Linked DNA regions of Homo sapiens. The protein of the gene in region 1 purifies or fractionates together with the protein of each later gene. This does not show direct contact. Each region holds a gene or a part of one and is shown on either strand. Other genes may lie near its edges.

Evidence for each region. The genes of interacting proteins can lie anywhere in the genome.
Region 2: the proteins of ING2 (region 1) and ARID4B purify together in Homo sapiens (affinity purification with mass spectrometry; 3 studies listed by BioGRID and IntAct, with this or other methods). This does not show direct contact.

The regions. Positions count from the first base shown.
Region 1 is NC_000004.12:183,509,497-183,514,335, reverse strand, and holds the end of ING2 (inhibitor of growth protein 2), read right to left. Parts: intron 4,055-4,839; coding exon 3,384-4,054; 3' UTR 1,907-3,383; downstream 1-1,906. UniProt on the Homo sapiens protein: Seems to be involved in p53/TP53 activation and p53/TP53-dependent apoptotic pathways, probably by enhancing acetylation of p53/TP53. Component of a mSin3A-like corepressor complex, which is probably involved in deacetylation of nucleosomal histones.
Region 2 is NC_000001.11:235,168,791-235,172,380, forward strand, and holds part of ARID4B (AT-rich interactive domain-containing protein 4B), read right to left. Parts: intron 1-3,590. UniProt on the Homo sapiens protein: Acts as a transcriptional repressor. May function in the assembly and/or enzymatic activity of the Sin3A corepressor complex or in mediating interactions between the complex and other regulatory complexes.

The DNA of each region.
Region 1 (4,839 bases):
GCTTGCTAGAAATGCAGACCCTCGGGCCCCACGTCAGATCTCCTGAAGCAGAATCTGGATCTTAACCAAACATGCTTATTAACATTTGAGAAGCTCTAATTTCCTGAGTAATTTCAGTCACATGGCTTCAAATGCCATAGAGATGACTCTCCAAAATGTTCACCTCCTATTACCCTAACGGTCATATGCCGGGTTCCATGCTGGATTCTACTGGAAATCTATTAGGCATCTCAAACCTAAGTGCAAACCATAAATTTTTATTCTTTTTCCCCCTTCAGGCCAAAAACCCGAGTCACCCTTGTCATCTCTTTGCCTTCCAATCCCTGGGCCAAAGTTATGTTGGCTGTACCTTTAGTACACAGAGTCCTACCACTAGCCACTACTGCTGCTGCTACCACCCTAGGCTAAGCCACCAACACTCGATGTGAAGACTTCTGAGTTGCTATTAAATCTTCTGAGTTGCTTCTCCTAAATCTATTTTCACCCAGGTTCCCTATAATATTGTATACACAGTATCCAGAGTGACCTTTATGTCAGACCATGGCTCAAACCCCTCAATGGCTTCCCAAGTTTCCTACCATGGCTTCCAAGAGTCCCCAGTTCCCAGCCCCTTGTACACTGTGCTCTAATGCCCTGCTTTAGTCAACCTGCCAAGCTTGTTCCCTCCTCCCTCCCTCAAATCTTTGCCTGCCTTATTTCTGCTCTTAGCTCTAAGGATTACTTCCTTAGGGACACCTTTTTAAATTACCATAAATAAAAGACTTGCCACCCCCCCTTCCATTCATTTCCAGCCCTTTACTCAGTTTTCCTTTCACTTTAGCAATTTACCTGACATTTTATGTATCTGACTCCTCCACTAGAATGTATCGTCCACAAGCAGGGATATTTCCTTTTTACACCACAACTGCTTAAAACGGTGCCTGGCACATTAATTAGCACTCAGATGTTGAGTATTCAGGCACTGGTGGTGGAGCCACTGGGGGCAGGAGATACTCTCATGTGTGTATAAGCATCTGTATCTGCTTCAGATTTGCATAAATCTGGATGTAGATAATCCACAGCAGCTTTCAATAAGTTGAAAACTGTGAAATGTGGCAGTGGTTCCAAAACATTTCCATATATTATAATGGGGATCTTTTAAAAATTCTAATGCTTAAGCCACATTCCAAATGAATTTAGATCACAATTGCTGAGGGTGGGGCACAGATATCAGTATTTGTTGAAACTCCCAGGTAATTCCAACGTTAAGTTTGGGAACCACTGGTGTATACAGTATGAGTTGGTAACCATGATATGAGATCCAGAATACTCAACAAAAGAAATTCCAGTCCTAATGCTACGCATGCTTAAGACTTCTATTTCCAAGATGTGTAGAAAACAAAACAAAAAAGTCATAAAACTGTTTCAGATATTAGGTCTTAAAGAGAGCACACCTTCCAGGATTTTCCAGGTTCGTTTTCCCGTCAAGTCTAATCCAAACTTTGGCATTTCTATTAGGAAGTCGTTTCTTTTCTCCCATCTGCCAAGGCAGATTTACGTATGAAAAAGTGGTGACTTCTATGTAAGTCGCATCTGAAGGCTTTGGGGGTTTTGTCCATACTGATATTTTTAATGGTGTCAAGTAAAAAGCTCCATTCTGGTAACAAGGTTGTAATCACTAAAACAAAATGCCATATTCTCAAAAGGATTTCCTTACAACTCAGCTAAGTTATGGTGATGAGAAAGGATTTGCTAAATTCTTAATCATGCTGTCTAACATTTCTCACTCAAAAGGTAATAGAATCAACTAGCTCTAGTCATGAATCCAAATATTCTTAGGACAGAAGCTAACAAATATTGCACATTTACCCATCTCCAAACTCACCTTTAAACTATCTTTATACCTCAGAATGAAGGACAAAATTAATGAAAAGAGAAGTCATGTCATTATTAAAATCCTCACTATAGTGCAAATAGTAGAAATTTCCAAGGAATCTCGGAGATATTTAAGCCAACTCATTTTACAGGTGAATGACCTGACACCCAGACAAGGTGAAATGACATGCCTAAAAGTCACACAGGAGAGCTAGAAGAGAAAAAAAGCATTTTTTTTTCCCAAAACAAGCAGACAGGATTTTTCATGTTAATCAAAAAGAATCAAGATCATCAGATTAGGAAGAAATGAGGAATAAAACATACGTTACACACAGATTTAAAGAACTAGTCAATCTGCTGCCCCCAAAACCAAAACCTTCTCTAAACATATGGACATATATCCATCAAGATGCTTACCCTTCAAATATCAGAATCTTGGAAAATTCAATTTACAAATACATTAATTGCATTATGATGATGAAATAAGTTAATTAAATGTGAAAACATCAAACAGCACCAATACTAGAAGTTAAGACAGTAAATACACTATTATTTAAAATAGTCACTGATTGGGACAGAAATGAACAATAACCACTAGCAAAACCATTTAAAACAACTCTCTGACATAAAGGCAATATTTAAAGACTACTATATGCCCCTTTCCACTGATAGGCCTGTGGCTACGCATCCTGGCAGCAGGTCACATGGAAAATACTATTAATTAAGATGTATTTTTAAATTGTTCAACCTTGAGCCGTGATACTATATAACCCAAAGTTTGCCAATGTAAGCCAATGTATATTTTTGGTATGCTAACTACTCTTACCTGTCCCAATTAAAAGAAAACACAAAACAACTCCCTTATTAAGCACTAGACTAAGTATATCTACAAAGCAGCAGCAAGGCATTGACAAATGGGCTACTGACAGTGGATCAAAATGCTACTAAGCAAAAGACAGCAGCACGTACTCTCATAAGAGCACATTATTCCACATGGAATCCCAAATTACTCTTATCTCCAGTTCCTTAAACTCCTAGAAGACTAGAGATGAACAAGCCAACGTATAAATAGGACTAGGGAAAAAGCAGCTCAAATGGCATAGTGTCTGTATTTTAAAGTACCCAAGATCATTTGATGCTTAAGAGAAATCCCACTACATCTAACATTTTTTTAAGCATGTATAACTAAAATGCTAGTGAAACTTTTGTGTTTACCCAAAAAATAACATTGCAGTTTTAAGTGAAAATGAAATAGGCATGGTTTGTGAAATTTTTATAATGTTTACACCACCCTCTTCCTGTTCCCTGCTCCTTTCATCAGGTGATCTGAAGACTACCTGGTTGGAAATATTTGGTAACTCAGTGCAGAAAATTAAGGTCACAGACAAAGTACAACAACTTTTAATACACCATTAATACTAATGATTAAAAATTATTGCATAGTCTTATGCATTTACCCTAAAACATTTTCTGAAAGCAAACGAATTATATAAAAGACAAATAACCCTTTAAAATGTGGATGGCCTTTACTACCTCGATCTTCTATCCTTTTTTGTCTTTTCAGTACTTTTGTCCATTGTTTTCTCATTATCTCCCCTGCACTTTGGGCAATACCATTTCCCCTTTGGTTTATAGGTAAGTGAAACACATGAAAAGTGAAACCATTCAATTGGACACTGTTCATTGTCACATCCTATCATCTCCCCATAAGACACTTGGTTGCATAAGCAGTATGTAGGTTCATTAGGATCTATTGCAAACTCAACAGGTGAAGCTTCCCTTTCCTGCTTGGCCTTGGAGCGTTTCTTTTTCTTTGCTGACTTGGATTTCTTTTCTTTAGGTGGCTGATCATCACAGTCTTCAATCCCATTTGCCATGTGACATAAATCACGGCTTTCACTGGTCCGCTGCCTGCGGGGTCTTCTTGAAGATCTTTCTGGTTGGCTGGAATCCATCTTTGCTTTATCTGAGGCTCGTTCACTTTCAGCAGGATCTTGGAAACACTGTGAGTGTAACTCCATTTGTCTTGCCCGATTTTCCACCAATTCGAGCATTTGTGTAACAATCTGTATTTTTTCATCTCCCAATTCTTGACTATTAATTAGTGCTCTCTGGAGAAGCTGCTGTAGACGTTTCTTCTGGTTTAAATCATCTTCTTTCTTATATTTTTCGTAGACATCATCAATTTCCTTTAACGTTTCTAAAAAAAGGAAAAGAAAAATGAGAACGTTATCATGTGTTAGCAGACACAACATTTCCAAGGTAGTTATTTTTTACAGAATTGAAATTAGAACTCAAACCATGAAACCATACTCCTCTTTGGTACATATACATTAAAAACTATTTCATACAAAGACCACATTATCTAATATGAAAGTATAGTTAGAAATAAAGTAATGAAAAGAAAGAACACAAAACTAATACTCATTAATCTATATTAAAAAGAGGCTGGGCGCGGTGGCTCACGCCTGTAATCCCAGCACTTTGGGAAGCCGAGGCAGGTGGATCACCTGAGGTCAGGAGTTCAAGACCAACCTGGCCAAGATAGTGAAACCCTGTCTCTACTAAAAATGCAAAAATTAGCCGGGCATGGTGGCAGGCGCCCCTCATCATTTCAGCTACTTGGGAGGCTGAGGCAGAGAACTGCTTGAACCCGGAAGGCGGAGGTTGCCGTGAGCCGAGATCGCACCGCTGCACTCCGGTCTGGGCGACAGAGCAAAACTCCATCTCAAAAAAAAAAAAAAAAAGGCCAGGCGCGGTGGCTCACGCTTGTAATCCCAGCACTTTGGGAGGCCGAGGCGGGTGGATCACGAGGTCAGGAGATCGAGACCACGGTGAAACCCCGTCTCTACTAAAAATACAAAAAAAATTAGCCGGGCGCAGTGGCGGGCGCCTGTAGTCCCAGCTACTCAGGAGGCTGAGGCAGGAGAATGGCGAGAACCCTGGAGGCGGAGCTTGCAGTGAGCCGAGATCGCGCCACTGCAC
Region 2 (3,590 bases), on another chromosome or scaffold:
ACAGTTCTACGATGTGAAGAAAGGAAAAGCTAGTGTAGCTCAAGAAGCTAGACAGTGCCCAACTACAGAAGTAATGAAAAGGACAGACCAGGGAAGGCTCCTGCGTGGGTCAAAGAGGGAAAGAACTGTGCCTAGTCTACAAGACACAGAAATAAAATACAGAATACACTTTTTGTAACAGTGAAACAAGTATCAAAACAGGAAAAATCTGCAATCCATCCAAAAATCATTTGTCCCCTCCTAATCCCTCCATCTTTCTGTACTTAGGAGTTTTCTTGTACATGTAAATGGTGACAAGAGTGGGAGGCTTAATTGCTTCTTCAAGTTGGATCAAAACAGTGCATAGCTCAACTGTTGCATTCTCCGCCACTAGGTTTACAAAGCAAATAACACATTAGTTATTTTCATCAGAGGAAGTCTCTCACTGTTTCCTTTTTTCGTTTTTTTTTGTTTGTTTGTTTTTTGAGACAAAGTCTCGCTCTGTCTGTCGCCCAGGCTGGAGTGCAGTGGCTCGATCTTGGCTCACTAAAAGTTCTGCCTCCTGAGTTCACGCCATTCTCCTGCCTCAGCCCCCCCAGTAGCTGGGACTATAAGCGCCCGCCACCACGCCCGGCTAATTTTTTTGTATTTTTAGTAGAGATGGGGTTTCACCATGTTAGCCAGGATGGTCTCGATCTCCTGACCTCATGATCCGCCCATCTCAGCCTCCCAAAATGCCGGGATTACAGGTGTGAGCCACCGCGCCCAGCCTGTTTGTTTTTTTGAGACGGAGTCTCACTCTGTCGCCCAGGCTGGAGTGCAGTGGTGCGATCTCGGCTCACTGCAAGCTCCGCCTTCCAGGTTCACGCCATTCTCCTGCCTCAGCCTCCTTTTTTTTTTTTTTCCTTTGAGATGGGGGTCTTGCTCTGTTGCCCAGGCTGGACTGCAGCAGTGCAATCTCAGCTCACTGCAACCTTTGCCTCCTGGGTTCAAGCAATTTTCCTGTCTCAGCCTCCTGAGTATCTGGGATTACAGGCATGCGCCACCATGTCCGGCTAATGTTTCTATTTTTAGTAGAGATGGGGTTTCGTCATGTTGGCCAGTCTGGTCTCGAACTCCTGACCTCAGGTGATCTGCCTGCCTTGGCTTCCCTAAGTGCTGGAATTACAGGCGTGAGCAATTGCGCCCGGCCTCTCTGTTATAAATTAGTGTTCATAAATTAATATTTTTAAATACATGCACAGATTTAAAAAATTCATTCAGTACAGGGGTAATAGGATAGAAAAGCAAATCTCACTCTCATCCAGGAACCTCCTAATCACCCAAATTCCCTTCCCCATTGCTACCAGTTGATTCATATTCATTACAACTCTAGAAAAAAGGCTGGCAAAAAAACTACCCCAGGGGCAAATCTGGCTTACTTGTCTTTGGAAAGAAAAATTGTACTGGAACACAGCCATGCCTATTTGTTTACATATTGCCTATGGGAGTTTTCACACTTACCATGGCAGAGATAAGTAGTTTCTACAGAGACCACATGGCCCACAAAGCCTAACATATTTATTGTCTCTTTACAGAAAATGTTTGCAACCCCTGTTCTACAGGAATTTTATCTCTAGAATCTAGAGATATGATATGCAAATTTAAAATATATAGATATAGCAACACCTTTAAAAACATAAGTGGAGGCCGGGCACGGTGGCTCACACCTGTAATCCCAGCACTTTGGGAGGACTAGGTGGGCGGATCACAAGGTCAGGAGATCGAGACCATCCTGGCTAACACAATGAAACTCAGTCTCTACTAAAAATACAAAAAATTAGCCAGATGTGGTGGTGGGCGCCTGTAGTCCCAGCTACTAGAGAGGCTGAGGCAGGAGAATGGCGTGAACCCGGGAGGCGGAGCTTGCAGTGAGCCAAGATTGCACCACTACACTCCAGCCTGGATGACAGAGAGATACTCTGTCTCAAAAATTAATAATAATATTACAAAAATTAGCTGGGCATGGCGGCACGCACCTGTAGTCCTAGCTACCCGGGAGGCTGAGGCAGGAGAATCGCTTGAACCGGAAGGCAGAGGTTGCAGTGAGCCAAGATCGCGCCACTGCACTCCAGCCTGGTGACTGACCGAGACTCCGTCTCAAAAAAAAAAAAAAAAAAAAAAAACCACACACACACAAGTGGAAGCATAGTTCAGTGTCTGACTTTTTTTTAAACAATATATTTTAAGAGATTGTTCCATATCAGTACATACAGATCCTTTTCTTTTCAAAGTTGAGTAATATTCTACTATATTACAACTCATAACTTATATATTTCACTACACTGTTCCTGCATTGGTTTTAGTTTTAATTTTTTTGGTAAGAATGATACCTTATTTGGGCCAGTCGCAGTGGCTCATGCCTGTAATCCCAGCACTTTGGGAGACTGAAGCAGGCGGATCACGAAGTCAAGAGATCGAGCCATCCTGCATCCTGGCCAACATGGTGAAACCCCATCTCTACTAAAAATAAAAAATTAGCTGGGCGTGGCAGCACGCTTGTAATCCCAGCCACTCGGGAGACTGAGGCAGGATAATCGCTTGAACTCAGGAGGCGGAGGTTGTAGTGAGCTGAGATCGCGCCACTGCACTCCAGCCTGGGCGACAGAGCAAAACTCCATCTCCAAAAAAAAAGAATGATACCTTATTTGATTTGCATTTCTTTGGTAACCAGGATAAGCATTTTCCTATGGATTTTTCTTAAAATAGTATTTAGGAACCGACTTTTAATGCTAACCCAGTAGAGAGGCTCTATTTAGCAAAATCATTCATTATAAAGAATTTGTGGTGACTATATTTACAAAACATTGTTTAGAAGGAGTTTCTGGATAGATGTCTTTTTTTTTTTGAGACAGAGTTTAGCTCTTGTTGCCCAGGCTGGAGTGCAATGGCATGATCTCCGTTCACTGCAACATCTGCCTCCTGGGTTTAAGCAATTCTCCTGCGTCGGCCTCCCAAGTAGCTGGGATTACAGGCACCCGCCACCGCGCACAGCTAATTTTTTGTATTTTTTAGTAGAGACGGGGTTTCACTATGTTGGCCAAGCTGGTCTCGACCTCCTGACCTCAGGCAATCCACCCACCGCAGCCTCCCAAAGTGCTGGGATTACAGGCATGAGCCACTGTGCCCGGCCTCCTCCCAGATTTTAATTTATCTCACTTCCTCATGTCATTCAGGTATCAACAAAAATATACTGACCATTTGTAATCTAAAGTAACCCATCCAATCACTACCTTAACATCATTTTCTTCATAGTGCTTTCAATATCTGAAATTATCTTATTAGGATGTTTTTGGTAGAGTATAAACTCTATGAAAGTGAATATTATGATCTGAAATAATTTTTTTATTTGAGATAATTTCACTTTAGAGATGAGGAAAATAAGATAAAGAAATTAAAGAATTTGCCTGAAAATAGACAAAGTCATGGCAGTCTAACTGCAGAGTGAGAAATTCTGGTTTATGTTTAAATAAAGTAAAAATACTGGCAGGGCACTCTTGGCTCACGCCTGTAATCTTAGCACTTTGGGAGGCCAAGACAGGTAGATCACCTGAGGTCAGGAGTTAGAGACC